2 separate regions of the Homo sapiens genome follow, and region 1 is linked to region 2. Evidence: fine-mapped expression QTL. A gene starts in region 2. The other region holds a variant in brackets. All regions are shown on one strand. Distances are between the middles of the regions.

Region 1 (14,851 bases), 41 kb after region 2:
GTGTGCTCAGTCCAGCCATCCCCTGATCAGCCTGTCAGGCCTGCTTCTCCATGTTGGCCTCTCCTGGATCTTTCCAGCAGCAAACATGCATAGAACTCCCCTCTTCACAACCACCTTCCATTGAGCCTCTATGTCCCTGCAGACCCTATGCTGACATAGTGTCCCCTTTACAGCTGTCCATGTTGGTTGCCTCTGCCTGTTCATCTCCCTACTCACTTCTCAGGGCCTGCAGTGGGGCCGCATGTCAGCCCCTGTTCCAGGACACTGTCCTGGCCAAGGTCACTGCCTCTCTCCCTAACTCCACTGGACACCTTGCAGTCTTTACGTGACCTGTAGTGTCGTTCTGCTTGCCGTATGCTCCTTCTTGAAATTCTCCCTTCCCTCTGCTCCAGGAACTACTGTCTTCTGCTGTGCCTCAGGGCCTGTCCTTGGTTTCTCCCCGTGTGACTTGGACCACCTCATAGACATGCACTTCGCTGCGTCAGTGCGATGCTGACACACTATCTGGGTCTGGACTCTTGAGCTCCAGACTTCAAATCTGAGGCCTCCTGCTATCTCACAGGCACCCCAAATTTGAAATAGCAGAAAACAACCTCGCCATTCACCCCAGCCTTGGATCTCCCAAGGTTGGAGGGGCACCATCATCACCCAGTAACCCAACCTAGAAACCTTGGTCATTCTTGATTTCTCCCTGTCCTCCACCTGTTTGCTCTCAAGGGGTGGGAACGGTTGGCTCTGGAATGGCCTTTGATTACCTCTTCCCTCTGTCTCCCAGACCTCCAGAGGCCCTTGATGGCTCTCCCAGTGTCCTCTCTCCTCCAGGAACGGGCTACCTGTGCAGGCTGATGGCCACCGTGTCCACCAGTCCCCAGATGGCACGCTGCTCATTTACAACTTGCGGGCCAGGGATGAGGGCTCCTACACGTGCAGTGCCTACCAGGGGAGCCAGGCAGTCAGCCGCAGCACCGAGGTGAAGGTGGTCTCACCAGGTAGGAAAGGTCTATATCCGGGGATGGGAAGGACATTCCCCAGTAGATTTACTGGTTCTCAAGGGCTGGCTCTGCAGTCTGAGGGACTCTGGTTTGAATCCTGGCTCACCCTGCCAGTTGCTGGTAGTGTGACTTGGGGCAAGGGGCTTACCTTCCTGAGCCTCATTTTCCTCCCGTCTACAGTGGGGCTGCTCCACCACCTGAGAGGGCTGTAGTGGAGATGAAGGAAATGATGCTCTGCTGGGCCCCTGGAGATAGCTTAATAGACATTAATGCATGCAGGACATTCAGACTCACCGATTTTGAGACATATGACTGACTGGAATTTCATTATAAAACTTAAAACTTAAGGCAGACCACTAAAATCTGTCCACTCTAATCCACTCTAAACCACTAAAATCTGGCCACTTTATGGCCGTTTGACCATATAACCCAGAAAGGAAAGGGCAGGGATTATCATCACCATTTTACAAATGAGACAGGTATGCAGAGAGCGTAAGTGGTGTTTCCACCGGTCACACCGCAAATGTGGCCTACCTGGGACTAGAGCCCATGTCTTTTGACTCCCCATGTTTTTTTTTTTTTACCCCCACGAAATTACTATACTTGTACCTAAGTGGAATCTTACTTGCATCATTTGATATTTGATATTGTAGCCTTACCTCCTCTAGCTACTACTCTATCATACTTCAACAAATCCAAATTGCCTGTAAGATGCATTATTTTTGTACCAAGAAAAAAATGCTGCCAGTGAAACGACACAATTCTGATACCATCAATTAGGATGCAAACCAACTTGAGAGATGTGAAAATAAGTGCATATCAGAACTGATGAAACAGATTGTGGTTCAGAGTTCACACTTACAAGAGATATGTTCAAATAAGCAGGAGGGAAAGGGGGACAGGGCTTTGCTCGTCCCCCAGCCTGTGCTTCCTTGTGTCCTTGGTTCTTGTTCACGGAGGGACTGAAGACAGAGTGGTACCTCGGGCCAAGCTGCCAATTCTCACAGGCCTGATACAGACCTTGGGGGAGTATGCCAGGCTCGGAGGTGCCAGGGCCCTTCCTGCCTGGTCTTCTGGGCATTCCTGACAATCAGGGCTGCAGCGCCATGCCAGGAGCACGGTTACACTCAGAGGGGCAGGCCTGGCTGCTTCCTGGCTGCCAGGCTGAGGGTGGAGACTGGCCAGTACTAGAAGTTGAAGGTCTGGCTGAAATGTTGCTTTGTGAGTGGGACTGACTTGTCGGCTTCCTGTCTATGATCTCTTTAGAGATCGCCTCCCCAGGGCCCAGCTCAGTGCTTGGCATCACTAGGTGCTCATGTTGTGGCTGGAAATGTTGTCCAGCGGCTTTTTTCTCACCTGTTGCTCGGCGAGCGGGAGGGAGGGTTACAGGGTTCCTTCCTGCCGCTTCGCCAGCCCGCCGCCTTGACCTCTGTCCGGGGCCTCGCTCGGCCCACCGTCTCGCTCCGCCCACTTGGCCGGGCAGGCTGCGCTCCGCTGACCCGGATCCCGCACTCGTGGCGGCCCCGCGCTCAGCGCACGGCACAGGCGGCTTCCGCACTGGGTGCTAACGTATAGACAAGGGGAACATGGTGGCGCCCGAAAACTCGGAGATGCCAGCAACCGCGGAGCCCCAAGGGGGTGTTACAGGGACAAATGTTCCCGCCGCTCGCAGCTCGGTGAACGGGAGCGTTAAAACTCGTTCTTCCCTCCATTCCCTCCTGCTCACCCAGCTACAAAAGCCGCGACACTCAGATACATGGTGACTAAGTGCCTGCCTGCACAATGATGGAGTTACATTGGCGAAAGCACCACACTCCAGGGACTACTTTTCACCTGTATCATGTCCAGAAAATTGACCTTGTCTACATAATAACCAAATCAAGGCTGTGTGACAAAGCAAAATGCAGATTCACAGTGAGAGAACTGTCAAGAGGACCTAGACATTATGTTTGCGATTAGCTCCAGATGGGATTACATGGAAAACCAAACTACAATGAGAAACTTGCCTGATACCTGGTCACCACGCTGAAATGGCCTGAGATGTGTGTCCCAGATGGGACAGACATGGCCTCAGTCTGGCCACTCTCCTCCGGTCCTCTGCTGGCTGCTCTCACCTGTTCATTTTTTGTTGGGTCATACGGTGTGCGGCTGCCTGACCCTGCCCTACTCATGGTTGGGTGGCACATTGAATTTCAGTGTTAGCACCAGGGTAGGAGGCCTTGGGGTGGTCAGGCTGAGGTAAAAGGGACATAGCTCTACTGGGAGGACTTCTCAACATCGCTGTGAAGTAGGTTGCTGTTGCTGTTATTAGTCCCATTTCACAGATGAAGAAATGTGCATAAAGGGCTTAAGCAACTTGCCCAGAGTTACCCAGCTGGCAAGTGGCAGAGCCCGGATTGAGCCCGGGCAGTATGGGTCCAGAGCTGGTGTGCTTAATCACTATGCTGAGTTCCCACTATGATGGGTCTTGGGCTGTACCAGCTCAGAGTTGATACCAAAGTTACAGATTTTTAGAAACAATATGCATTAATGGCTTTGTTATCTATATAAATTTAGGTAGGTAATAGTCTGGTTATACCAATATACCAAACGTTTGTAAGGTTGTTCGCTGCTAGGTACAGTCTTTTAGTGGTATTTTGTGAGTAAACAAGGGGAGAGAGAAAGATAAGCTTTCTCTGGCTGCTTGAGGTCTGACTTCAGGGAAGGTACCACTCTGGTCTAAGTCAGCTGAGTTTTAAGAACCCCTTCCAGAAGAGAGATGAAGCAGTAGAATGAAATTTTTTTTTTTTTTTTAAGACAGAATCTTGCTCTGTCACCCAGGCTGGAGTGCAGTGGTGTGGTCTCAGCTCACTGTAACCTCTGCCTCCTGGGTTCAAGCGATTCTTCTGCCTCAGCTTCCCGAGTAGCTGGGACTACAGGGGCACGCCACCATGCCTGGCTAATTTTTGCATTTTTAGTAGAGATGGGGTTTCACCATATTGGCCAGGCTGGTCTCAAACTCCTGACCTCGTGATCCGCCCGCCTTGGCCTCCCAAAGTGCTGGGATTACAGGCATGAGCCACCACACCCAGCTGAATGAAACTTAATAGGGAGTTATGAGATACAGACGTTCCTAGTAAATTCAGAGGGAGAGAAAACAAG[GGCTTT/G]GCTTTGTTCTCAGTGTAGTTAGTATTAGAGCCACCGTTAACAGGACTGTTTTCCTATTACCTTGTCTAATATGCATTGCTTCCTCTGGGGAAAGTGAAAAACTGGAAGGATGAGGACCCAGGTGACTAAGATAAGCTGGTGATATTGAAGGGACAAAACTTTGATGGTTGGAGGAACCCAGCAGAGAAAGGGAAAAGATAAGAGCTCTTGCTAACTCAAAATTTTACTTGGGGCTGATCCTACCTGCTCTCCCAATCCAGAGGCAAGAACAGTTGTCATTTAGTAATTCAGGTCTCAAACATAAGGAGTTAACTTCAAGAGATGTTTAATTATCCAGTCAATAAATATTTGGGAGTCTAGGAAGAGCTATTCAGTGGGCTGAGGCCACAAATAATAATGGGAGGACCACTGCATGTTGAAGTGAGGCCAAGAAACAGGTAGAAATCATCATCCCTCATAGAGTTTGTACGTATGGTTAAAAGGTTACAGGGTAAGTGCACTTCGTTTTCAATCTGGCAGTTATAATGCTGTGTTCCTTTGAAGGAAATGAAATGGCAGGTGAGAATTTTCAGCATACACAGAGCTTCCTCACCACCTTCTCTCTCCCCTGTCGTTCTGCAGCACCCACCGCCCAGCCCAGGGACCCTGGCAGGGACTGCGTCGACCAGCCAGAGCTGGCCAACTGTGATTTGATCCTGCAGGCCCAGCTTTGTGGCAATGAGTATTACTCCAGCTTCTGCTGTGCCAGCTGTTCACGTTTCCAGCCTCACGCTCAGCCCATCTGGCAGTAGGGATGAAGGCTAGTTCCAGCCCCAGTCCAAAATAGTTCATAGGGCTAGGGAGAAAGGAAGATGGACTCTTGGCTTCCTCTCTCTGGCTGGCAAAGGGAGTTATCTTCTGGAATACATTAGCTCTTTCAAAAACCCACCCAGTGTTTAGCCTCAACGGCAGCCAGTTACCAGCTTCTCTCTGTAGCCTTCAGCAGTGTTTGCATCTCTGACATAACCACAGGCTGCTGTTTTCAAGAAGAGCAATCTGTTTGGATAAGAAAAACCTTTACTTTACAGCTTCCCTTTATAATTTGTTACACAGGAATAGTTAAATGCATTTGTTTGTTTGTTTTTTGAGACAGAGTTTCACTCTTGTTGCCCAGGCTGGAGGGCAATGGCGCGATCTCAGCTCACTGCAACCTCCGTCTCCTGGGTTCTTGATTCTCCTGTGTCAGCCTTCTGAGTAGCTAGGATTACAGATGCCTATCACCATGCCTGGGTAATTTTTGTATTTTTAGTTGAGATGGGGTTTCACCATGTTGGCCAGGCTGGTCTCGAACTTCTGACCTCAGATGATCTGCCCGCCTCAGCCTCCCAAAGTGCTGGGATTACAGGCATGAGCCACCACGCCCAGCCATCAATGCATTTTTTTTATTTTTTTTTTGAGACAGAGTTTCGCACTTCTTGCCCAGGCTGGAGTACAATGGTGCGATCTTGGCTCACTGCAACCTCCACCTCCTGGGTTCAAGCGCTTCTCCAGCCTCAGCCTCCTGAGTAGCTGGGATTACAGGTATGTGCCACCATGCCTGGCTAATTTTGTATTTTTAGTAGAGACGGGGTTTCTCCATGTTGGTCAGACTGGTCTTGAACTCCCGACCTCAGGTAATCCGCCCGCCTCGGCCTCCCAAAATGCTGGGATTAGAGGTGTGAGCCACTGTGCCCAGCCCATCAATGTGTTTTAAAGCTAGCTGTCAGGGTTCCACTTAATTTAAAGCTGGGCAGGGAGATGTGTAATGATTTCAAAGTTAACACCTGTTTGTTTTCTAAAGGGCATGCCAAGTCCTGCTGTATCAGGGAAGTATTCTGTGCTAAAATCAGCGATGGTTCATTGCTCTAGTCTCTCTCACCCTTCTAGGCAGTGCATCAGTCAGCTCTAAATCTGGTGCAGAGGGTTAACAGCATAACCCTTGTTGGCAAAATGGAATAGATGTTAAGACCTCAAATAGGGATTTGGGATGAAACAGCTGCAGTTAGCACTGTTATCTGAGCATGAAAGAACTGGAAACGCTCCTTACGTCGAGATGTTGGACCTTGAAGCCCTCCTGAGGCCAACATGCAAATCTGGCTGTGACGGTTCATCTGACACCTGTGTAAAGCTGACCAGCCTGCTCTGTACAGTGACAATGAGGAGCCCCTCTCTTCCTTAAGTAGGAATCTGTGAAGCAAAATGTTTGCTGCCAAAGACAAATCAGACTGTCAGTCATTAAAAACAGCATTAGCAGGATGAGGATAGCAATGGGGAAGGGTTGTGGGCAATGCAGTAACAGGGAAATGGCTTCAGAAATGGTTTGAGTTGGAAGACAACATTCTTCATCTCTCAGGACTTCTAATTCCTTGATGCTAAAAGAAGAGGCATGGATTCTATGAGCTTCCAAGTCCCTTTCCACTTTAACCTTCTACAAATCTTTCAGAGGACTGCCTAGTAGCAAAGGTTATTCCTGGACACAGGAAAGACGGGCATTACAGGGACCAAAGCTCTGAAAGGTGACTTTTATTACCAACACACTGGCTGGAAAAGGGACAAACCACATCACGGGTGAGTGATACTTCTCAGTCTTCTCTACTCATTCAACAAAGGAAATGTGGGCTGGGGCAGAGGTCTTTTTTCATTTAATACTGGAAAAATATTGAAGAGCATCCATGTTCACTTATGGCTGGTTTTGCTATAGAAATTGGAAAATAAAGGCCACTTTTTTGAAATCCCCAGTTTAATTAAACCAGATTTTGGCCTATTGGTATAAACACATCAGAAGGTAAGTTTGAGGTTAGCTAGCAGCTAACTAGTTCTAATAGAACCAGTCACAGAATAGTGGGCTAAGATTAGAGGTAAAACTCATTCTAGGCCAGTGGTTCTCAACTTTACCATATTGCGAGCTTAAAAAAAAAAAACACAACCTGGGGGGTCCCCCTGCCCCACTAAAATTTTGATTTAATTGGTCTGGAATATAGGCCAGGCGTTAGGATTTTAAAAAGATATCCTCAGGTGATTCTATTGCATAGCCCAGGTTGAGAAGCACTGCCCCACCCCGCTGAGATTCTGCATTTCTAACCAGCTCCTAGGTGAAGTCCATGCTGCTGTTACAGACCACACTTTGAGCAGCAAGAATCTGACTTTAGAGATACACTCAGGATTAAAGTATGAATGAAAATATGAATCTTAAGGGTATTTTTCTAGTCACTAAACTAGGGATTTACAGCAGCAGTAGAATGGAGAGTAAGACCAAAAGAACGAAAAATAAATTCATTTACTAATAAAGGAAAGGGGAAAGAACAGCCCTTCATGGGCAAAAGCTTCTACCATGAACATTTATTTTTGTTAAAGCAGATTATAAATTTTCATCAGTACAAATATATATAACTTACATTTGATTGTAAGGCCAACGTTCAAAAGTAAAAATGAGATGAGCTCTCTTATTGTTATCCGAGGTCAAGAGGCTGCAACTGTCAAGGGGATGTTCTCACCAAAAGGGGGTTTGGGGGAAGAGGACACACACAAAGCTAATAAAACCAGAATCCCCATCCCCACAAAACTCATGGGAACAAAATTTAAAGGATAAAACAAAACCCACCAAGACCCATATTACAAACCAATATGGTAACCTGTGTTCCCTTCTATGGTATGATTATGTCATGTTACCTTAGTGTTAAAGGATTAACATAAGGAAACTGCAGCAATATATAAAAGATATATTCTCTATAGAGCATATTTCGATTGATTCCATTAAAATAATGACATTAGAATTCCATCATAGGTTTAAAACCAGGACAATACTGCTTTTCCTTTATTTAAAAAAAACTACAACCTAGTGACTGTATTGGTCATAAGCATGATTGTTGTTGCAATGTGCTACTTACAATGAATGACTGACAGAAAACAAGCTAGGGATCCTGTCTGCAGCTTCCAGCCTTTCCTCTTTTTATTTCAGTAGGCATCAATGATAAATCAATCTTATGTACAATTTCTTACAACTAGCCCCTTTACCTTTGGCAAGATTACTTACAACTCATACAACTTCTTAATATCTGAGAACTATTTAAAATATTCTAAATGCATAAAAATAAAGATTTTGGCTTTTGATATATATAATATTTATTCTGTTACTCAAAATGGAAGCTCAACTTCTCCCCCAAAATATAGCTCTGCTGGGCAGTTGCTGATATGCCCTCCTGGGAATTCTGGCAGCATAGCGTGCCTCTCTGTTCCCCAGCCTGAGCACAAACCACTCTTCTTGATCTCTAATACAGGCCACTACTGACAGGAGGCAGGTGAATGGCCTGAAAAACAAAGGGAGATTGCTTTGCTTCCTGTTGTGTTTTACATTTCAGTAAATGTGCTTGGAATATAGATTCTTGTTCAGATACTTTGCCTCTCTGTTGCCAGAGATTTGTAAGGGGGTAAGGGAAGAGGGAGTACAGAAAGCAACATTTCCTTGACTTCTTTAGCCTAATTGCAAGGCAGCTTTTCTCTAGGAATGCTTTTTCCCATGTCTTTCAAAATCACCCCTCACAGTACTCTGGGCCTGGACTTGTTCCTTGGGACCTTTGGGATTAGTGAAAAGAGTACTAATCAGGAGACAAAGTCTGTTTTGCTCCTTTGACCGCTACCCCCTGCTCCCTGTCTGGTATGGACAAGATACATAGCCATAATGATTGCTTAAAGTTCAATTTCAAACGTCTTCTGTAAGTCACTGGAGAAAGGGTTGGTAGGGGAGGGATTAGTACGCTGCTTGGACTTATTTTCTAATGCAGCCCACTGGGCTTCAAAAGGATCCACTGGGCAGGTGCCTGTAGGAACCTCTGTATGCCTGTCTGCTGAGGCCAACCTGCCATCATCTACACCATTGAAAGCTGCAGAACCGTTGAGGTGCTGAGCAGGAGGCTTAAAGAAGGGACTGGTGGTAGCACTGCTTGCCTCGTAGTGAGGGAATGTCTGCTGCCTGACCAGGCTGGGTGACTGATGGGGATGGGCAGCCTGAGGGTGGCCTGCAGTGCCAAATACGTTGGCCACCATCTGGGAGGGAGTGATGCCCACCACAGGCACATTAGGGGCTGGATAGGGCATTCCATTGGCCACAGGATAGGACTGGGCAGGGACAAAGGCTGGTTGCAGGGCTGGGACCACACCCACTGGCACAGGCTGAGAGGTGAGGAATGCATTCCCTTGGAAAGGTGATGCTGGCTGGGAGATGGCAGTGGGTGGAGGAGGCTGGAGAACTGGCTGCAGAGGAGCAGCTGAGGCCTGGGGCTGCTGAGCCCGGACGCTCTTAGACACCTCTTCTAACCATCGGTCGGCCTCAGAGGGAGTACGTCTATGACCGGCCTGGAAGAGACCTGGAGAGGCAGCACCAGAAGATTGACCCCACTCGGTCCCTGGAACCAACAAGATGAGAGACAAAAGAATCAGTTAGGGGCATCTTTCCTCACCTTATAATCTTGGTTATTTGAATGATCCTAACATGTACAACATGTCCCCCCCTAATGGGACATTTTGTGGTTTTGATAGGTAGGAGTAAAGTCTCTATTACCAACTGGGATTTTGTGGTAGGATGAAGAAAACTTGTCAAGACCATGCTGCTGTGTCAGCCACACTGAAGCACTGTCTAGATATGGCTCAAATGCATTAAACCACGGCAGCTGACTGATGTCAGAAACCCCTCGCTGTTGCTATGGCTCATCCACAATACAGAAACTAGCTGGTTGTGGTAGCTCACACCTGTAATCCCAGCTACTTGTGAGGCTGAGGCAGGAGGACTACTTGAGCCCAAGAGCTGGAGGCTGCAGTGAGCTATGACTGTGCCACTGCACTCTGGCCTGGGCAACACAGTGAGAATTCTGTCTTAAAAAAAAAAAAAGGCCACGTGCAGTGGCTTATGCCTGTAATCCCAGCACTTTGGGAGGCCGAGGTGGGCAGATCACCTGAGGTCAAGAGATCGAGACTATCCTGGCCAACATGGTGAAACCCCGTCTCTACTAAAAATACAAAAATTAGCTGGGCGTGGTGGTATGCATCTGTAGTCCCAGCTACTCGGGAGGCTGAGGCAAGAGAGTTGCTTGAACCTGAGAGGCAGAGGGTGCAGTGAACCAAGATACTCCAGCCTAGTGACACAGCGAGACTCCGTCTCAAAAAAAAAAAAAAAAAAAAAAACACCTAGCTTGCACATCCTCTAAAGGGCCCAAGGCAATTCATCTTCTGCTCTAACAGAGCAAAAAGAAAATAACCAGTGACCTGGCCATATCTTGCTGGCCTCTGCCTGGCTTCCAGAAATATGTTGTCTTTTTGGTGAACTGCCTTTATTACTATGTTAAAACCTTTTGAGGCCGGGTGTGGTGGCTCACACCTGTAATCCCGGCACTTTTGGAGGCCAAGGCGGGTGGATCACGAGGTCAGGAGTTCGAAAACAGCCTGGCCAACATGGTGACACCCCATTTCTACTAAAAATACAAAAATTGGTTGGGCATGGTGGCATGCACCTGTAGTCCCAGCTACTCGGGAGGCTGAGGCAGGAGAGTTGCTTGAACCTGAGAGATGGAGGTTGCAGTGAGCCAAGATCATGCCACTGCATTCCAGCCTGGGTGACAGAACAATACTCCACCTCCAAAAAAAAAAAACTTTTTGGTTTTATAATTAATAGATGTTTTTTATACAAAACTAGAAAGTACAAAAAAGCAAAAATGAAGTGCTTTTTCTAGCACTTTTTGTAGGCCTCCTATTGTAGGAGCAGGGCCCCCTCTTTCTACAGGAATGTCTGCACATCACCAAATCCGGTGATGGATTCTCTGAGGTGGGGCCCTGGAATCTTTTTTTTTTTTTTTTTTTTTTTTGAGACAGAGTATTGCTCTGTTGCCCAGGCTGGAGTGCAGTGGCGCAATCTTGGCTCACGGCAAACTCTGTCTCCCAGGTTCAAGCGATTCTCCTGCCTCGGCCTCCTGAGTAGCTGGGACTATATGCGCATGCCACCGCGCCTGGCTAATTTTTGTATTTTTAGTAGAGATGGTTTCACCATGTTGGCCAGGATGGTCTCCATCTCCTGACCTCGTGATCCACCCACCTCAGCCTCCCAAAGTGCTGGGATTACAGGCATGTGCCAACACACCCAGCCGGAATCTGTATTTTATAAAAGCTCTATGGGTGGGGCTCTGTTCCACAGTCCTGTTCCACAGTCCTAATGACTATCAGTCTGATCTCTTTTGTTCTCCTTCACCATCCTTTCTTATGTAAGCAACTTATTTCTAGGAGGGAACATAGTTTTCCTGAAAGGATTCCTCCCTAGTTCCCACTCAGCTAACTGGCTGAGTTTTAGAACCAGGGTCACTTATCTGATCCCAGAATCCTCAACACCATCTGTGGCCACCTTACCCGAACATGTGGCTGCAATTTCCTTGTTAGCAGCATCAGGGGCATGGGCCCAAGGGTTGGTTTCACGCACAGGCATTGCTACGGGTGCTAGAGCAGTATGGGCTGGCTTAGCAAGCACATGGAAGGCTGAGTCAGTGCCATTAGCTACAACGGGAGCAGACAACATCAATGGAGTTAATTCATGCAGGGTGTACAAGTGACCCCTTGGAGCTGTGTCAGTCAGGTGAATGTACAATACTGGTGGAATGGATAAGAGAGAAGAGTTGATGTTTGGGAAAACCATGATATCTTGCATTGGATGTACATACCATTAGGCAAAGAAGCAATCAGAGATTGTAATTTTTAAATGGTTGTATAGATAAAGTCAAATAACTGTTCTAGGAAAATATGTGCATGGGGAGTGGGGAAATGAAACCTACGAAAACAATTTCAAATTAAGGTGAACAGAGCTGCTGCGTCTTAGGAGCAGCAAAAAATATCTAACTATTCTAGATATAGCTTAGCCTTCGGCATAATGAAGTAGGTATAGCATTTCCCTCTTCTTCACTTTTCCAAAAGGTCAGATTATGTTAACAATAATACTGGTTAAAAATAGGCCAGGTGTGGTGGCTCACGCCTGTAATCCCAGCACTTTGGGAGGCCGAGGTGGGTGGATCACCTGAGGTCAGGAGTTCGAGACCAGCCTGGCCAACGTGGCGAAACCCCGTCTCTACTAAAAATACAAAAATTAGCTGGGTGTGGCAGTGTGCACTTGTAAACCTAGCTACTAGGGAGGCTGAGGCAGGAGAATCACTTGAACCCGGGAGGCGGAGGTTGCAATGAGCCTAGATCACACCACTGCACTCCAGCCTGGGCAACAGAGTAAGACTCCATCTCAAACAAAAAAAAATTACTCTTTGTTTCCTCCTCAAAAGTTAAAATGTATATATGATTCGTTATTATGTGCTAGTCATTAAGCTAATATTTTACATGCATCATTTCATTTAATTATCTCAAAAACCCTACGAGTCTGGTATTATCCCCCTATTACAGATGAGAAATCGAAGTTGGTATGTTTTCATTTGCTTGATAGATTTCTAATTTGCTACACAATTAATTTCAACTTTTTTTGAAGGTTTTTTTTTTTTAACTCTCCTGGTAACTCACAGAACATTTTTTAACAAAGATTTTTTTCCCCCTCTATGATGTTTACAATATCACAACATACCTACTATTCTTTCCTCATCTCCCCTTGTTAAAATCTGCTAACCCTTGTTCCTTTTACTCCAGATACCTATATTAGTTTCTTCTCCTTAGCCCAGCTCTCAATAACATTCAGTTTGGTGTAGACAAGCACCCTCCCCTGACCTACAATATAATTATATCCTTTTTAGGACTGGACAGCCATGCCTATGGTGTTGGTACTATTTTTTTTTTTTTTTTTTTTTTTTGAGATGGGGTCTCGCTCTTGTCACCCAGGCTGGAGTGCAATGGTGTGATCTCGGCTCACTGCAACCTCCGGCTCCCAGGTTCAAGCAATTCTCCTGCCTCAGCCTCCCGAGTAGCTGAGATTATAGGTGCCTGCCACCATGCCCGGCTAACTTTTGTATTTTTAGTAGAGACGAGGTTTCACCATGTTGGCTAGGCTGGTCTCGAACTCCTGACCTCTGGTGATCCGCCTGCCTCAGCCTCCCTGTTGGGATTACAGATGTGAGCCACCGCACCCAGCCGGTGTTGGTACTGTTTACCTAGAGTTTGTCTAAAAGACTGCCTTTGCTTTTTTGGTGGCAAAAAAATTTTTTTTTTCACCTAGAAACTGGGAGCCCTCTAAAGGCAGGGAAAGGAAACTGAAATATTCAATTTTGCACACTTAGTGCCTTGTAGGCTGGCAGAATCAGCAGAATGTAACGGGTACTATATTCAGGAGGACCTGAGTTTAAATCCTGTCTGTAAGATTTGGGCAATTTACTTATCCTCTCTGAGCCTCTTTTTTTTTTTTCATCTGTAACACCTACCTCACAGGCTTGTTGTGGGGATTAAATGAAATAATGCATGAATACCTACCACAATGTGGCAAGCAATGTGTAAGTGCTCAATAAATGGTGCCTATTATTACCGGTATTATAAATGTTTGTTAGATGACATGAAAAGTCATTTGGTACACATGACTATGAAGGTTTATTAAAAAGAAAAAGAAAAAGACCCTTGGAGAAAAAGTGTGTAGTTCTTCCAGTAGAAGCAGGGCACTATCTCTGGAGTAAAACTTCCGCTGAGCTCTCTTTCAAAAGAAATGGAGAAACAGCAATTATAGCAGCTCAAATTCTACAAGTCTGTAACTTAAGTTACATAAATTCTTTGCTGACCTCTGAGTCAATATCCACTATTTAGTCAGTATCTCTGAAAACAACTTTTAACTCTTCAATGCCACAAAGGCAAATTTTAAGACACTTGTTATAGAAGATGAACTAAAGAGCTCAAAGGAGTGCCTTTTTCTTTATTAGCCTCTTTGACAGGGCAGAGACTAGGTGAGTCCAGGGCTTCTCAACATTGGCACCACTGACATTTTGGGCTGGATAATCCTTTGTTGTGGGTGCTGTCGTCTACACTGAAGGATGTTTAGTGGCATTCTTGGCATCTAACCACAAGCCAGTAACACCCCCAACCCCCAACTTGTAAAGCCCCAAAATGTCTCCAGACAGTGAAAGACAAACTTTGCCCCAGTTGAGAACCACTACACTAAAGAAAGCATAACCTTTGAACCAATTCTGATGACTACTGCTTTTGGGAAACTGGATGGGTATGCTGATCCTTAACAGTCAAGTGGGAAATAAGGCAGTAGGTTGGGACTACAGAAATTCCTTATAGAATGGGGTGAAAGATGGGCACATGCAGAATGACAAACACAGACATCTTAGAAAACAGGAAGGGCACAAAGACATCGTCGAATGGAGAAATCAATGAATCTAAGACATCAAATAGAGAAATTAATGGGTCTGACCAGGCCTTGGGAAGCTCAGGATGCCAACTTACAGTTAGTGAGCAGTGTACTAAAAGTACTGGTTGTAAAGAGAACAGCTGAGCAGGTCAGAGGGCACCAACCTTGGAAGGTAGGAGATTGTGGTGCCACCACTGTCACTGGTTTGGTCATCGGAGCAGATGAGAAGGGGTCCTCAGGTGTGCTGAAGGCATTGGTGATCTGTGAGCACAGGGAGCTGATGCTCTCTGCCTCCCCTTCTACTTCTGGCACTGCAAGGCAAACAGAAAATGGCTCCAGACAGAAAAATGGAATAATCCTGAAATTTGACAGTATGATGCAAGCTGGCACT
Region 2 (13,570 bases):
TGCTCGGTTGCAAGGGTGTCTGCCTTCACTTTGGTTTATTTCATATCTGCCCCCTAGGCCAGGGCTGGGAGAGCTGAGCCAGTGCTTCACAGTTTGTTTGTTTGTTTGTTTATTTTTATTTTTATGTGTTTTTTTTGAGATGGAGTCTCGCTCTGTCGTCCAGGCTGGAGTGCAGTGGCGCAAACTCGGCTCACTGCAACCTCTGCCTCCTGGGCTCAAGTGATTCTCCTGCCTCAGCTCCTGAGTAGCTGAGATTACAGGCGCCCGCCACCACACCCAGCTAATTTTTGTAGTAGAGACGAGGTTTCGCCATGTTGGCCAGGCTGGTCTCAAACTCCTGACCTCAGGTGATCTGCTCGCCTTGGCTTCCGAAAGTGCTGGGATTACAGGCGTGAGCCACCGTGCCCAGCCAGTGTTTCACGTTTTGTAAATGTGCCTTCTCTGGCTCTCAGGTTACTTCTGTGGGCATCCAGAAATTAATTTCAGGATATTTTAGGCCCTTTGGCCTCTGTCAGACCTGAAAGTGAAGCCAGCCTGCCTGGGTTAATGTGCTGTTGACGGCACAGGCTGTTTGCACTGGCGATGTAGGGTGCTGCCCACTGAGCCAGGGTGCCCCATGTGTCAGATGGGCCCATGGCGATGGAGCCAGTGCAGCCCACTTGAGGGAGGAGACAGGGACCGGCTCCTCTGCCTGTCCACACACATGGCAGGTCATCTTTGAGGACTCTGTTTTCTCAATTGTCAAGGACCAGAATTCCCTCTTTCCCCTCTTGCACTATGGATAAAGGCATAGACATGTTATAAGTGATTATGCAGCTTTTGTCATTAAAGATATGTAATAACACGGTTCGCCAAGGTGCTCCAAGCATTTGGTAATTATTGCATGAATTGATTTTTGTTTTTAAATCAAAACATACTTTGGTAAACATTCCTGTGAAGGGAGGCCCATTCCAAGTCTCAGAGTTGGAGTGCCACCAAGACCCCGCCTGGAGCCCCGCTGCTCTGCCAGTCAACTGATGGGCTCCTTTACCCTCTCTCTTCCTGGCAGTGCTCCATAGCGGTGGGAAAGAGGGTGAGGCCTTGCCACTCCGCGGAGGGCCCCCTGGCCCACCCCAATGCTGAAGACAAATCTGACCCCATCTTCCCACTGGGAACTTGGCCAACCCAGATGTTCCCGCAGCCCCTCCCTCCGCTCCTCGCTCCCTGGATGGGGCCCACCTCCAGCGCATTTTTCTCACTCCAAGCTCCTTCCTTGCCAGATGGCTCTGCTGGAGGATTCTGCCCCGGGCTGGGAGGGGCTGGGGACCTGATTCTCTCATTTCCCTGTGGTTTGGCGAGTCTTCCCTCGCCCCTGTCGTTTTCAGAGCGAGCCCCGCCCTTGTCTGCAGACTCTGGCTGCCTGGACAGGCAAAGGGAAATGGATGGGTCACCCTGATGCCTCCGAGCCCGGTGACAGGAGCTAAGGATGGCAAATACAGACCGAGGGGCCACCTTGCCACTGCCTGACCCTCCAGGGAGCTTGGGCGCCGTCCCATTTCTTAAACTCCTGGCAGTTGCCCAATAAATGGTGAGTCAGTGAAGGACTGTAGGGGTGGCTGCGGGGTCTGCGGGAGGGGATTTCCATGCAGAATGATGTCAATAGGTCATGTGCATGGGAATTGTTGTGAGTAAGAACAAACATTAACCAGCTTTTGCCCCTGTTTACAAGGCTGTGCTGGAGAGTGTGGAGCCGAAGTCAACCAGCCTTATCCCTTCAGGAGACCTGAATTTATAAATGGTGGTCAGGATGAATACAAACAGGATTCCTCCCCCAGTTCACGTTTGTGACATCTGGAGAGATGTATGGGTTTGTCCTGGGTCATTGTCACCACATTGGATGCAGGGGGAATAAAGGATAGGGCGGTTGTTAATACATACCCCACATTTAACCAAGAAAAGCCACAGAGGAAGGTACTGCTTCATAAAACCAATGTCCCTTGAGCATGTCCCTTAATATGCCACAGACACTATGCCAAGCCCATCACAGGCATTGTCTCCTGTCCTCACCCCACCCTATGGGTAGGGCCTGTTAGCCCCATTTTACAGAGGAGGAGGAGCGCTCCCAGAGTCACTGCCCGCAGGTAAGTGGGAGAGGCTGTGCCTCCAGCACTGTCAAGGACGGGGGCACTGGACCCCATTTCTGATGAACCGAATCTTCGTCTGAGTGGGCCTTGGTAGCGCAGTCTCACAACCTTTCTCAACTTTCTCACTAAAGCTGCTCAAGCAACAGAGGACAGAGACACTGAGGGATGTGGACACAGTCCAAGGTGGCAGCCTTAGGTGGAGAGTTCTCTGGAGTTTTACCAAAACCAAAAGTTTTATTTCATAATATATGCTTTTTGTTGTCTTACTGGGTAAAATACAACATAAAATATACCATCCTAACCATTTTTGAGTGTGCATTTGGTGACATTAAGTTCCTTCACAGTGATGTGTAGCTATCACACGCCCATCTCCAGAGCTCCTTCCTCACCACAAAACAGCTCCCCGCCCCAGCCTCCAGCACCCCCATTCCAGCTCTGTCTCTGTGAATTTGACTACTCCAGGAACCTCACAAGGAGTGGAACGACCCACTATTCATTCTTCTGTGACTGGCTTATTTCACTTAGCGTGAAGTCCTTGAGGTTCATGCATGTTGTTGTAGACGTGTTTTAATGTTAAAAAAAAAAAAAAAACGGCTGGGCATGGTGGCTCACGCCTGTAATCCCAGCACTTTGGGAGGCCAAGGCGGGCAGATCACCTGAGGTCAGGAGTTCAAGACCAGCCTGGCCAACATGGCGAAACCCCATATCTACTAAAAGTACAAAAATTAGCTGGGCATGGTGGCAGGCACCTGTAATCCCAGCTACTCAGGAGGCTGAGGCAGGAGAATTGCTTGAACCCGGGAGGCGGAGGTTGCAGTGAGCCGAGATCGTGCCACCGCACTCCAGCCTGGGTGACAAGAGTGAGACTCCATCTCAAAAAAAAAAAAAAAAAACCATCACCAAAAATATATGACACCACCATACACACTCCTAAAGTTGATGTTCCCAGAAGCTGTGCCTTATTTATTCAGTCTTCCTGTGATGCTAAGGTCACAAGCTCTGGTGCGAGAGACACTGACCAGCCAGGCCTCAGCTCCCAACTCTGGCCGAGCAGGACAGCCCGTCACAGTCTGCCTTTCAGTGCCAATGCTGCCTGGAGGCCTGCGCTGGAGGCCCCAGTCGACACGGGTGTGTGCCACTCCCCTTCAGAGAGGATGCCACCTCCAGCTTTCTGCTGCCTCACTTTGTTCTCAGAGTTTGGGGTGGTGGATTCCTGGGAATTTTCAATTTTAGTATTTATTTTTTATTTACATCAATCTATTGTCTTTTAAAAATGAGAAAACTGCCATGCAGGAAGGTTGGCTTGCCTGAGATATTACAGCCAGGAGTGGTAGACCCAAGACTGCCCAGGCTTTGTGCCTCCCTACTTCCTGCCCCCAAGCTTGGACCACATTCATGGCACCACCAGGAGGTGATTCCAGTAGGCCACCCCGCCCACCACATCACACAAATGCTGCTCATCTGAATCCCATCTGCTCTGCGTTATATTGCGTTTAATGGGCAAAATTTACAAAGCTCTGAAAACTGAAAGGTTTCTTATCAATGTGTCCGTAATACCTGACTGAACTTTATGCCCTTTAGGAGGACATTTGTGTGTTTTGCCGCAGAGCTATGAGTGTGTATGTGCGGCGGTTTTGCTCGTTGATTTGTTTTGATTAAAAAGGGCTTCTGGCCGGGCGCGGTGGCTCACGCCTGTAATCCCAGCACTTTGGGAGGCTAAGGCAGGCGGATCACAAGATCAGGAGATCGAGACCATCCTGGCTAACATGGTGAAATCCCGTCTCTACTAGAAATACAAAATAATTAGCCAGGCGTGGTGGCATGCGCCTGCAGTCCCAGCTACTCGGGAGGCTGAGGCAGGAGAATCGCTTGAACCCAGGAGGTGGAGCTTGCAGTGAGCCGAGATCGCACCATTGCACTCCAGACTGGGCAACAGAGCAAAACTCCGTCTCAAAAAAATAAACATAAAAAGAGGGCTTCTGGCCAGGCACGGTGGCTCATGCCTATAATCCCAGCACTTTGGGAGGCCAAGGTGGGCAGATCACCTGAGGTCAGGAGTTGGAGACCAATCTGGCCAACATGGTGAAACCCCATCTCTACTAAAAATACAAAAATTAGCTGAGTGTGGTGGTGTGTGCTTGTAATCCCAGCTACTGGGGAGGCTGAGGCAAGAGAATCGCTTGAACCTAGGACGCGGAGGTTGCAGTGAGCCGAGATGGTGAAAAGAGGGCTTCCAGCCTGCTGGGAGTATTATATAATATGCAGTTTAGTCACTTCTAAAGCCTGGAAAATTCTCAATTCTGAAACACGTTTGGCCTCAAGAGTTTCTGATAAGGGATTGGGACCTAGATATATAGAATTAACAGTGATATGAAAGCTGTAAAAATAAAGAGCTTAGACCCCGTTTTGTGTCTGTACATCTTTCCGTGGCATTATACTATAAAGTAGGGGTCCAGGATAACAGGTCCCCACAGAAATGAGAGCTAGAGAAGCACTGCAGCAAAAAAAAAGAAAAGAAAAGAAAAGAAAAATTATTTCCTCTCCCTTCAGCTTCGGGGAAGTCTTGTTTTAGGATTGCGAGGCACTGGCCCACTGACTTCTGGGTTGTGTTTCCAGGTCTTTGGCCCGAGACACAGGCTGTCTCTCAATGTCTGGGCTGAGAACCATTCAGGTACAGAGGCTGAAGCCACAGGGTAGATGAGAAGTGTCCCAGGAGCATGGTGGAGGGTGAGACCAAGACAAAAGGATCTAAACAGCCTTGACTGCTGGCCTCTGGGGCTACCAATCCAGGGCCCCTGTCCGTGACAGCCCCCCAGGGACAGCACCAGGGACCTCAGAGCCTGGCTCACTGGATTCATCACAAGAGAACAGGGACTTGCTGCCTTCTGCAACCATCCGAGGGGCCACCAGGCGGCCACAGGACACCAGGCTTGCCTGGGAGTCTGGGGTGCCCACCTGGAGCTTCAAGGCCCAGAGACATGCTCCGGGCCTGTGCTCTTGAGCTGGTTCCACACCTTACACCGACCTTTGTGGGGTCTGGGCCAGGAGCTGCTCTCCCCTTTGGGAAGTGAGGGTGGGTTCCTCACAGCAGCTCCCTTAATGTCTCAACCAGCTTCTCCAAAGGAGGCCGTGGTTGGGGTCGCTGTGGTAGGAGTTTGTGTTCCCCTGTGGGCAGAGGGGATGAGATCTCTGCCGGCTGGAGCTGCTGGCTGGGAGCTAGTCAGAAACAGCATTGGAAAGCCCCTTCCTTTCCCACTGTCTCTGCTCTCCTTCCCCAGGCATTGTCCTGCCTCCACACAGCCTCTCCCGCATCCCGGTGCCCTTTCCGGGATCCGAGTCAGCGTGGGCCTGGTGTCACTGAGGGGACATCCCAGGAATTCCTGTTCTTTCCCTCTGGATGGCCTTCTTGTCTGCAGGAAGGGTGGGAGGAGCTATTATATATTTCTGTCTCAGCTTTAAGGGTAAAACTCCCCTCCAAAGGCCAGGTGGCTTATCTCCTGACAGCCACTTGTCAGACACACTGAGCCCTGAATTCCCACTCCAGTGGTCTGGCATGGTGCTTCAAAGAGCTGACTTGGATATGGCAACGCAATGGGGGAAGGAAGGTTGAGGTGGCGTCTGGAAGCACAGCACGGAGTGGAGTTTTGACCCTCGCCTTCCCGCCGTTCCCAGCGTTTGAATGACTGTATTAAGGGAAATGAATATATGTATTGGGGGGTGGGGAGACGTTAGAGAAATAAATGCAGCAGCCTCTGATGTGGAGTATCTTTTTTCCTTTTGGATTCCTAGTGGGCTGTGGCATCGGTTCTATGACTTTTATCGTAAAAATGTTTGAATACTCTGATTGTAAAACTCAGCTTAGTCTAAACTGACACACACAGCACTAGAATGCAAGTCCCCACTAGAGTGTAAACTCCCCGAGCAGACCTAGTGAGCTGGAGCCCACGCCTGGGAGAGCTGACTGCATCTCTTCCCAACTCCACGTCTGGTGACGTCACCTTGGTAGCTTGAAAACAGCCATGGTGGGAGCATCTACACCAAACGCCATGGGAAAGAATCCACCTGCACAGCAGTGCTGCCTCCTGCAGCAAGCTGAAGCTTAAACAGTTATCACCACTGGGCCGGTCTCTCCCAGCTTCTAGCGCAGCGTAGGCACTCAGATATTTGGATGAACAACCTCCAAATGAAGGAAGAGGGAAGCAGCATCCTCTAAATTCAGTTCAATGGGAGTTCAACAAATACCCTGTCCTGGTGGACATGTGTTTTCTGGGGCAGCTGCCATCTGAACTTCCACCTGGGGACCCTGCCAATTCTTGTTTCTCAGGTCCTGGCCATCAGGGTACAGGCATGTTCCTGTGGGGAGTGAGTCTACAAGGACGCTTCAGGGTTTTTCTAGGCATGTGTCAGCATTGCCTAAAATTGGTGGTGACACGAGTTCAGCGTCCAGCGGAAGAGCAGCATAGATCCTAACTGGAACTGCTCCTGGACTACAACTAGGACATTGTCGGGGGTCCAGCCCAAGCATGTGCCTGATTTTCAGCCCTCCTGTCAATCTGCGATCTCCCATTGCCTCTCTTCTAAGCAACTCTCCTGTTTAAGCTGACTCAGTCCTTTTCTGTGATGTGCAACCAAGAACCGCAAGGGTTGGTTCAGGCCCTCTGAGAGCAGAGGCTGAGACGGGACTAGATGTGCGAGAGATCTACAGGGGAGCGCCTGTGAAGATGAATTGCGGGGAGGAGGAGGTGCAGGGGGAGTCTTCAGAACCTGGTGTGGGGCTGAGTGCAGCCACTGGAAGCTGGTCACCAGTTACACTTCTCAAAGCCCCTCTCTTGAGGCAAACCTTCAGGGCCACCATGAACCTCTGGTCCAGGGTATAACATGAAAATGGATCTCTGCCCTTGCAATGTTCACAATTATGAGAGAGAAAGAGAAACAACTACATCACTGCAGTAGTTTGAAAGTGCTAGGGCAAAGCCCGGCACCGATGGGAGTGCAGAGCCAGATGTACAGGAAGGCTTCCTGGAGGAGGTGAATCCTGGGAGCCCCGAGGCTCTTGGCATTTTGCCCTCTCTCTTCTCTCCAGCCTTCCATCCCAACCCAACCACACAAAGAGATCTGGCCACTTCTTTCTTAGCCTCATCCTTAGATCTGCAATCTGTGGAGATATGAAAATGTAGAGAATTGAGGATACACATGGCGGGAGCACAGGACAGAAATTTAACAAAAATTTTTTTAGAGACAGGGTCTTGCTCTGCTGCCCGGGCTGGAGTGCAGTGGTGCAATCATAGCTCGCTGCAGCCTCGACATCCCAGGCTCAATTGATCCTCCTGCCTCAGCCTTCCAAGTAGCTTGGCCAGTGGTACCCGACCTTTTTGGCACCAGGGACCAGTTTTATGGAAGAGAATTTTTTCAGGTCTGGGAGCGGGGTGGGATGGTTTCGGGAAGAAACTGTTCCAGTCTAAAGCCTGATCCTGTTCAGATCATCAGGCATCAGAGTCTCCTAAGGAATGCACACCCTAGGTCCCTTGCATGAGTAGTTCACAACAGGGTTCATGCTCCCGTGGGAATCTAATGCTGCCACTGACCTGACAGGTGGCGGGGCTCAGGCAGTAATGCTTGCTCACCTCCTGCTGTGTGCCCGTTCCTAACAGGCCATGGACAGGTACCGGTCCGTGGCCTGGGGATTGAGGACCCCTATCTTGGACTGCAGGCAACTGCCACCATACCTGGCTAATTAAAAAAAAAATTGTAGAGATGGAGGGTCTCACTGTGTTGCCCTGGCTAGTTTTGAACTCCTAGACTTAAGCAATCCTCCCTCCTCAGCCTCTCAAAGTATTGGGACTCCAGGCATGAGCCACTGCGCCCAGATCAGAACTAACTTTTATTCTGCATCTAGTAGGAATTTTATGGAAACCAGTTACTTCCCTACTCTACCACCTGCTGTATGAGTCTCAAGTGAGCAAGTTGTGGCTTAAGGAGGTGACCCGACCTGCCCAAGTACACACACAGTGAGAAGCAGAGCAGCCTTCCAGTCCAGGTCTGCCTCCGCCCCAGGCTACCCCAAACCCCCAATGCGAGGGCGTCTCAGGTGCAGACACTGAGTGGCATAGAGCCAGCACAGAGGGGACTTGACAATAGGAAGGAAGGTCTTACACTTTTTCCTGGAATCTTCTTTCTAAACCACCCTATTTTAATGCATCAGTTCTGTTCACATCTCTGTGAGGTAAGCAGAGGAGAAATGAGGCTTAAAGAGAATATTCCTGCCCAAGCCAGTAATTGCTAGGGCCTGGCTGGTGGGTCTAAGACAGTCCCTTACCACTGAGTGTGGGTTCTGCCTCCCAACCTCAGAGTCCTCTTTGCAGCTGGCGTGAGGCATAAGAAATCACAGCCCTGGGTGTCTGAGAAGAAAGGATCATAGGAAAAGCAGGGACACAGCAGGAAAGTGAGCTCCTTGGGCCTCAGCTTCCCCCACCCTGCAGCGGGAGAAGCATTTTCCTCCCACTTAACAGAGGACCTTTGACCAAGCTCAGAAAAGTCCCAGCTGGTGGGGGCAGGGAGTGGGGCTTGTTGAATGGAAGAAGCGCTTTTCCTCTTTAGAGAGGCTGCATGATTCCACTCCCCTTTCTCTGCCAAGCTTTATCTTTGCTTAAGAATTCACACAACTCCCCAGGGGCCCCGCTACAGCTGCTGCTCCTCCTGTCTTCATTGATAGGTAAGAAATGCACCTGATTTAAACTGATTTAAACTGGCCATGTTCTAATAAGCATTTTGTCCAAACAGGCAGCTGCTGGAGCCAGGGGGCTGAAGTGGGGCTGAGCTTCCCGCTGGTGACTTCTCTTTGCCCAAATGAGGCCAAGGGAGAAGTGGCAGGGCCAGCAAGGGGCTAAAGGCAGAACAGCGTGGGGGAAGGGGACCAGCCTTTGCCACCACCCCACCCCCAACCTCTCCCCAACTTCTTCCCCCCAACCTCCCTCGTGTCCAGGACCAGTTTCTAAAGATGAGTGAATTCCAGTTTCAAAAAAAGAATGGTAGGCAAAGAGTGTCTTGGTTGTGAAAAAGGACAACCAGGAAAACAAATGAAGTTGATCACATGCGTTGAGCCCCTGCCTTGATGCTAATTAGTGCCCTGGCACAGGTGGTGGGGCTGCATTGCAGGCCCTGCCCCCCGGGACTCACAGCTGAGCAAATCACAGCAACAGGGACAGAAACCGAGGGAGCAGGACATGCACCCCATCGGCCTGGGGTGGTGTGGAGACGGCTTCAAAAGCAGGTGACATGCTGGGCACGGTGGCACTTTGGCAGGCCACGGTGGGAAGATTGCTTGAGCTCAGGAGTTCGAGACCAGGTTGGGCGAGACCTTGTTTCTATTTAAAAAAAGAAGAAGAAGGCTGGGCGCAGTGGCTCACGTCTGTAATCCCAGCACTTTGGGAGTCCGAGGTGGGTGGATCACCTGAAGTCAGGAGTTGGAGACCAGTCTGGCCAACAAGGTGAAAACCTGTCTCTACTAAAAATACAAAAATTAGCCAGGCATCATACAGACGCCTGTAATCCCAGCTACTAGGGAGGCTGAGGCTGGAGAATCGCTTGAACCCAGGAGGCGGAGGTTGCAGTGAGCCAAGATCTAGCCATTGCTCTCTACCCTGGGCAACAAGAGTGAAACTCCGTCTAAAAAAAAAAAAAAGAAAAGGAGGGAGGAAAGTAGAAAGAAAGAAAAGAAAGAGGAAGAAAGGGAGGGAGGAAAGTAGAAAGAAAGAAAAGAGGAAGGGAGGGAGGGAAAGAAAGAAGAAAGTGAGGGAGGAAAGTAGAAAGAAAGAAAAGAGGAAGGGAGGGAGGGAAAGAAAGAAGAAAGGAAGGAAAGTGACATTTGACCAAGGTTTTGAGGGCTGACTACGGGTTTGAGAGGTAGAGGGGATTGGGAGAGCGCATTCTGAGTGAGAAAACGTGCTGGGAGATGGGTAACAGCAGCGTGTGCGGAGAAACTCAGTTGCGGCTGAAGAATAGGATCCAGGGGTGGAGAAGGTGGTGGCTGGACACAGGTGTGTTGTGTGTAGGATAGGCATGAAGAGGAGCGGATAGGGCAAAGCTAGAAGGCTTGGGCAAGGGGAAATGGGATTGGAGAGGTGACTGGCGCTGACCCAAGAGAGGACAGACGGGGTGACCAGAGTGGAGGATGAGCCAAGCCTTGGCACAGACCCAAGCGGGTGGAGGCCCCGGGCAACACCGGTCACCACGAGGGCCTCTACGAAGGGCTCTGTCCTCCCACGGGGATTGGAGGTGGGTAAGTGAGACAGGGCGGGGTGGAGGGTGAGGCCAGGCAGCGGCGGAGAGAGAAAGTCCCACCCCTGCGGGCGTTCCTTGCGGCCCGGCCGACCTCGCGGGCTTGGGCCTGGGCGGGCACCGACGGAGCGGCCCTGGCTGCAGCCTCCCGGCGCCAGCGAAGACAGGTAGGGAGGCGGAGGGACTGGAAGCCCCCGGGCGCCCAGCGGCGGGGACCCCGCACCCCGGGGCTTCTGCAGGAATTTGCTCGCCTGGCTCACGGCGACGGGGGTGTCGGAGAAAGTGGGGGCCGCAGAGAAGACCCCGCCCCGGCTCGCTCTCCGGAGGTGGGCGCAGGGTCATCGCTCGGCACCGCGCGCCCCCCGGCCTGGAGGAAAGGAAATGCAGAGAGCCGGGGAGCTGGTGCGGGACGGCCCCGGCGCGCACCCTCCGCCCGCTCGGACCTTCCCTTCAGGCGAATGCCGCTCCCGGCGCGTGGTACAAGCGAGGCCCTGGAGACCGTGCGCCCCTCCCGGGAGGTGCCACTGGGCCGCGGGCCTGGAGCGTCCGGGAGCCCCAGCGGCTGCCGGCACCTGCGCGGCCACCCCGGGCCTCCCGTGGGAACCGCGCCTCTCCGCCTCGGGGGTGCGCGGCGCGTTCCTGGGGTGGGGACGCGGGGTGCCTGGTCAGGGCTGGACCGATGCAGAGGGGGGCCGTGGGCGGGGGCCACGGGGACGGGCGTCTGCGGACTGCGGCGGTCCCGGAGTCGGCTGGGGACCCTGTAGGGGGAGGCTTGGTCGGCGGCCACCCGCCTTCCCGCCCTCTGGCGCCTAGGGTCGCCGCCTTCGGCCCTAGCTCAAGGCAGACGCGTTCCCCGGGAACAACACGTTGAGGGCGCCCACCCTGCGTGCCCGGGGCCACCCGGTCCCTGCCCTCGGGCGGCAGGAGAGGTCGAGCTTCCACGGCCCTCGGAGTAGCCCCGTGACCAGACCCGGACTGGCCTTGGAGTTGAAGGGGTTGTTTGCCACCAAATGAACCGAAAAAACTGAACTTTTCAGACTTCGGAATGGCAGATATGGGCTTGGAGTTCAGTGAAATTGCAGCGGAGGCGGTGGTGTTCTGAGTAATTACAAGTAAAATTCTTCTTTCACCCGTCTTTTCCTCAGCCTCGCCCGCCCTAGCAGGCCTAGCCTGGCCCTAGCAGGGGGCTCCTGCTCTGGGAGCTGCCCCCAGCAGAGCAGAGGCAGGGCTCTGGCAGCAACCCCCTTCCCTCACCCTCCAACCCCAGGAATCTCGAACTTGACCACGAAAATAATGACTCAATGACTCACTGTGCCAAATTAACGAGTGTGTACATTGTTCAGTATGCCAGGTTACATTTCTGCTGAGCTTGGCTTCTGTATGCTGTCTTTTATCCTTGTAAGCAGAAGTCATTTTATATCTTTAAAAAATTAGAACATTGGTAGAATTACAGATTTTAAAGTTCAAACCTGCACGCTAGTACTTGTTTAATGTTTTGTACTGAAGGGCGCACATTGTTTATGTCATTCTGCGATACAGCGACATGTATGTACACATACACACTGCACAGCGTGTATACCGACTGGACACCTGCACCAAATAGTACACACCAGACTGCACATGGACCCGCCCCGCACACTGCACATGCACTTTGCATGCATGCACACATCAAACCACAGACACTCCACACACACTGCACTGCACACTGCCCTGAGCACACTACACTGTACTGCACACTGCACTGCACTTTCAGGGCTCACACGCTGCACCACGCACACTGCACGGCGCACACTGCACTGCATACACACGTTGGTTATGGAGGCTGCTTATGGAGCTTCCCTGTGCAGAGAAATGCTGGCTTGGGTTTTAAATGGGCTACAATTAACACTTTTAGAGCATTTGGGTTTTCAAAGTGTCTTCAGAGACTTGATTTTTTTAAAGCCTATATTAGGAGTTTTTAAACATCTGATGTAATAGCTTTTTTAAAAGGAATCTTGCTGAATTAAAAGTGAGTCTAATTACTCGGATTCTGAACTTGTTTTTCAACCACATAGAAGTATTTTTAATTGCTCTCTCTTTTTTTCCCCTCTGGAACTCTGAAACAAGTTGTTCTTGAACTTCTGCCAGTTGCGGATGGGCCATTCCTTTCTTGCTCACATGTTGAGCCGCCCGGCGGGGCGCCCTCACGCTGTGTTCTCTGCGGTGCACCGAGGCGCACCCGGCTGTCCTGTTGCGGGTCTCCTGGTCACCTGTGGGCCATAGGGAGAGACGCGCCCACACACTCTCGCCCGCGCCCAGGACAGCTGCGGGAGCCCCGGGCCGCTCTAACCCAATGCGTCTCCCGCAGGCTGAGATGCGGCTGCTCCTGCTCGTGCCGCTGCTGCTGGCTCCAGCGCCCGGGTCCTCGGTGAGTGCGGTCCTGCCCCGGCCCCCGGAGGAACCTGCAGGGGAGTCGGGGGCGGGGACGCGCGGGCCCGCAGGCAACGTCCCCAGGAAAGGGGCGATGTCAGGGAAGCTGGGCTGGGAGGAGGCGAGCCCGCACCGCTGAGCTCCCTCAGAAAGGGCTGGGCCCTTGAAGCCAGCTGGCCAGGGTTCCCAGAACTGCCCGCCCGGCTGCAGGGCGCAGTGTGTAGGAATGGCACCTTCCCAGGGCTTCCCTCCTTCAGAAGGTGGTGGGAGCACTCCATGAAGTCCCCGCCAATCCTGGCGGGTGCAGCCAAGGTGCAGGGCTGGGTGGTCCATCCCACCAGACACCTGTCTTCTGCCTGGAGCCAAACACGGCTTCCCTAAGCTGGGGTGTTTTGGCCTAGAGGTTTGGGGTGCCAGTCGTTTCCATTCCCCTTGGGGTAGCACCTAGGGCAGGGCTGTCCTATGGAACCTTCTGAGATGGCAGAAATGTCCTGTTTCTCTGCTATCCAATAGGTAGCCCCTAGGTCCATTGAGCACTTGAAATGTGGGTGAGGTGAGTTTTAATTTTACTTGACTTTAATTAATTTAAATTTATTTTTAAAATTTTTAAGTATTTATTTATTTTTGAGACAGAGTCTCACTCTGTCACCCAGGCCGGAGTGTACTGGCATGATTTCGGCTCACTGTAACCTCCACCTCCTGGGTTCAAGTGATTCTTCTGCCTCAGCCTCCCAGGTAGCTGGGACTCCAGGTGTGTGCCA

What was found.
Region 1: its variant is fine-mapped to the expression of PAPLN in whole blood (TOPMed, PIP 0.99).

The regions. Positions count from the first base shown.
Region 1 is chr14:73,267,735-73,282,585 of GRCh38, forward strand. It overlaps PAPLN (papilin, proteoglycan like sulfated glycoprotein), which reads left to right. Exons shown (of 27, transcript NM_001365906.3): 26 at 823-989; 27 at 4,761-6,889. The coding sequence ends at 4,930. NUMB (NUMB endocytic adaptor protein) reads right to left here. Exons shown (of 13, transcript NM_001005743.2): 11 at 14,625-14,771; 12 at 11,547-11,690; 13 at 7,482-9,559. The coding sequence ends at 8,844. Among named protein-coding and RNA genes, the nearest start is that of PAPLN-AS1, 29 kb to the left of the region's middle. RefSeq lists an enhancer at 8,794-9,294. The variant GGCTTT/G (reference allele first, on the strand shown) is at 4,134.
Region 2 is chr14:73,227,026-73,240,595 of GRCh38, forward strand. It overlaps PAPLN (papilin, proteoglycan like sulfated glycoprotein), which reads left to right and starts at 10,481. Exons shown (of 27, transcript NM_001365906.3): 1 at 10,481-10,567; 2 at 12,748-12,807. The coding sequence starts at 12,754. RefSeq lists enhancers at 36-931, 4,884-4,953, 8,754-9,326, 9,327-9,898, 10,472-11,042 and a silencer at 9,116-9,410.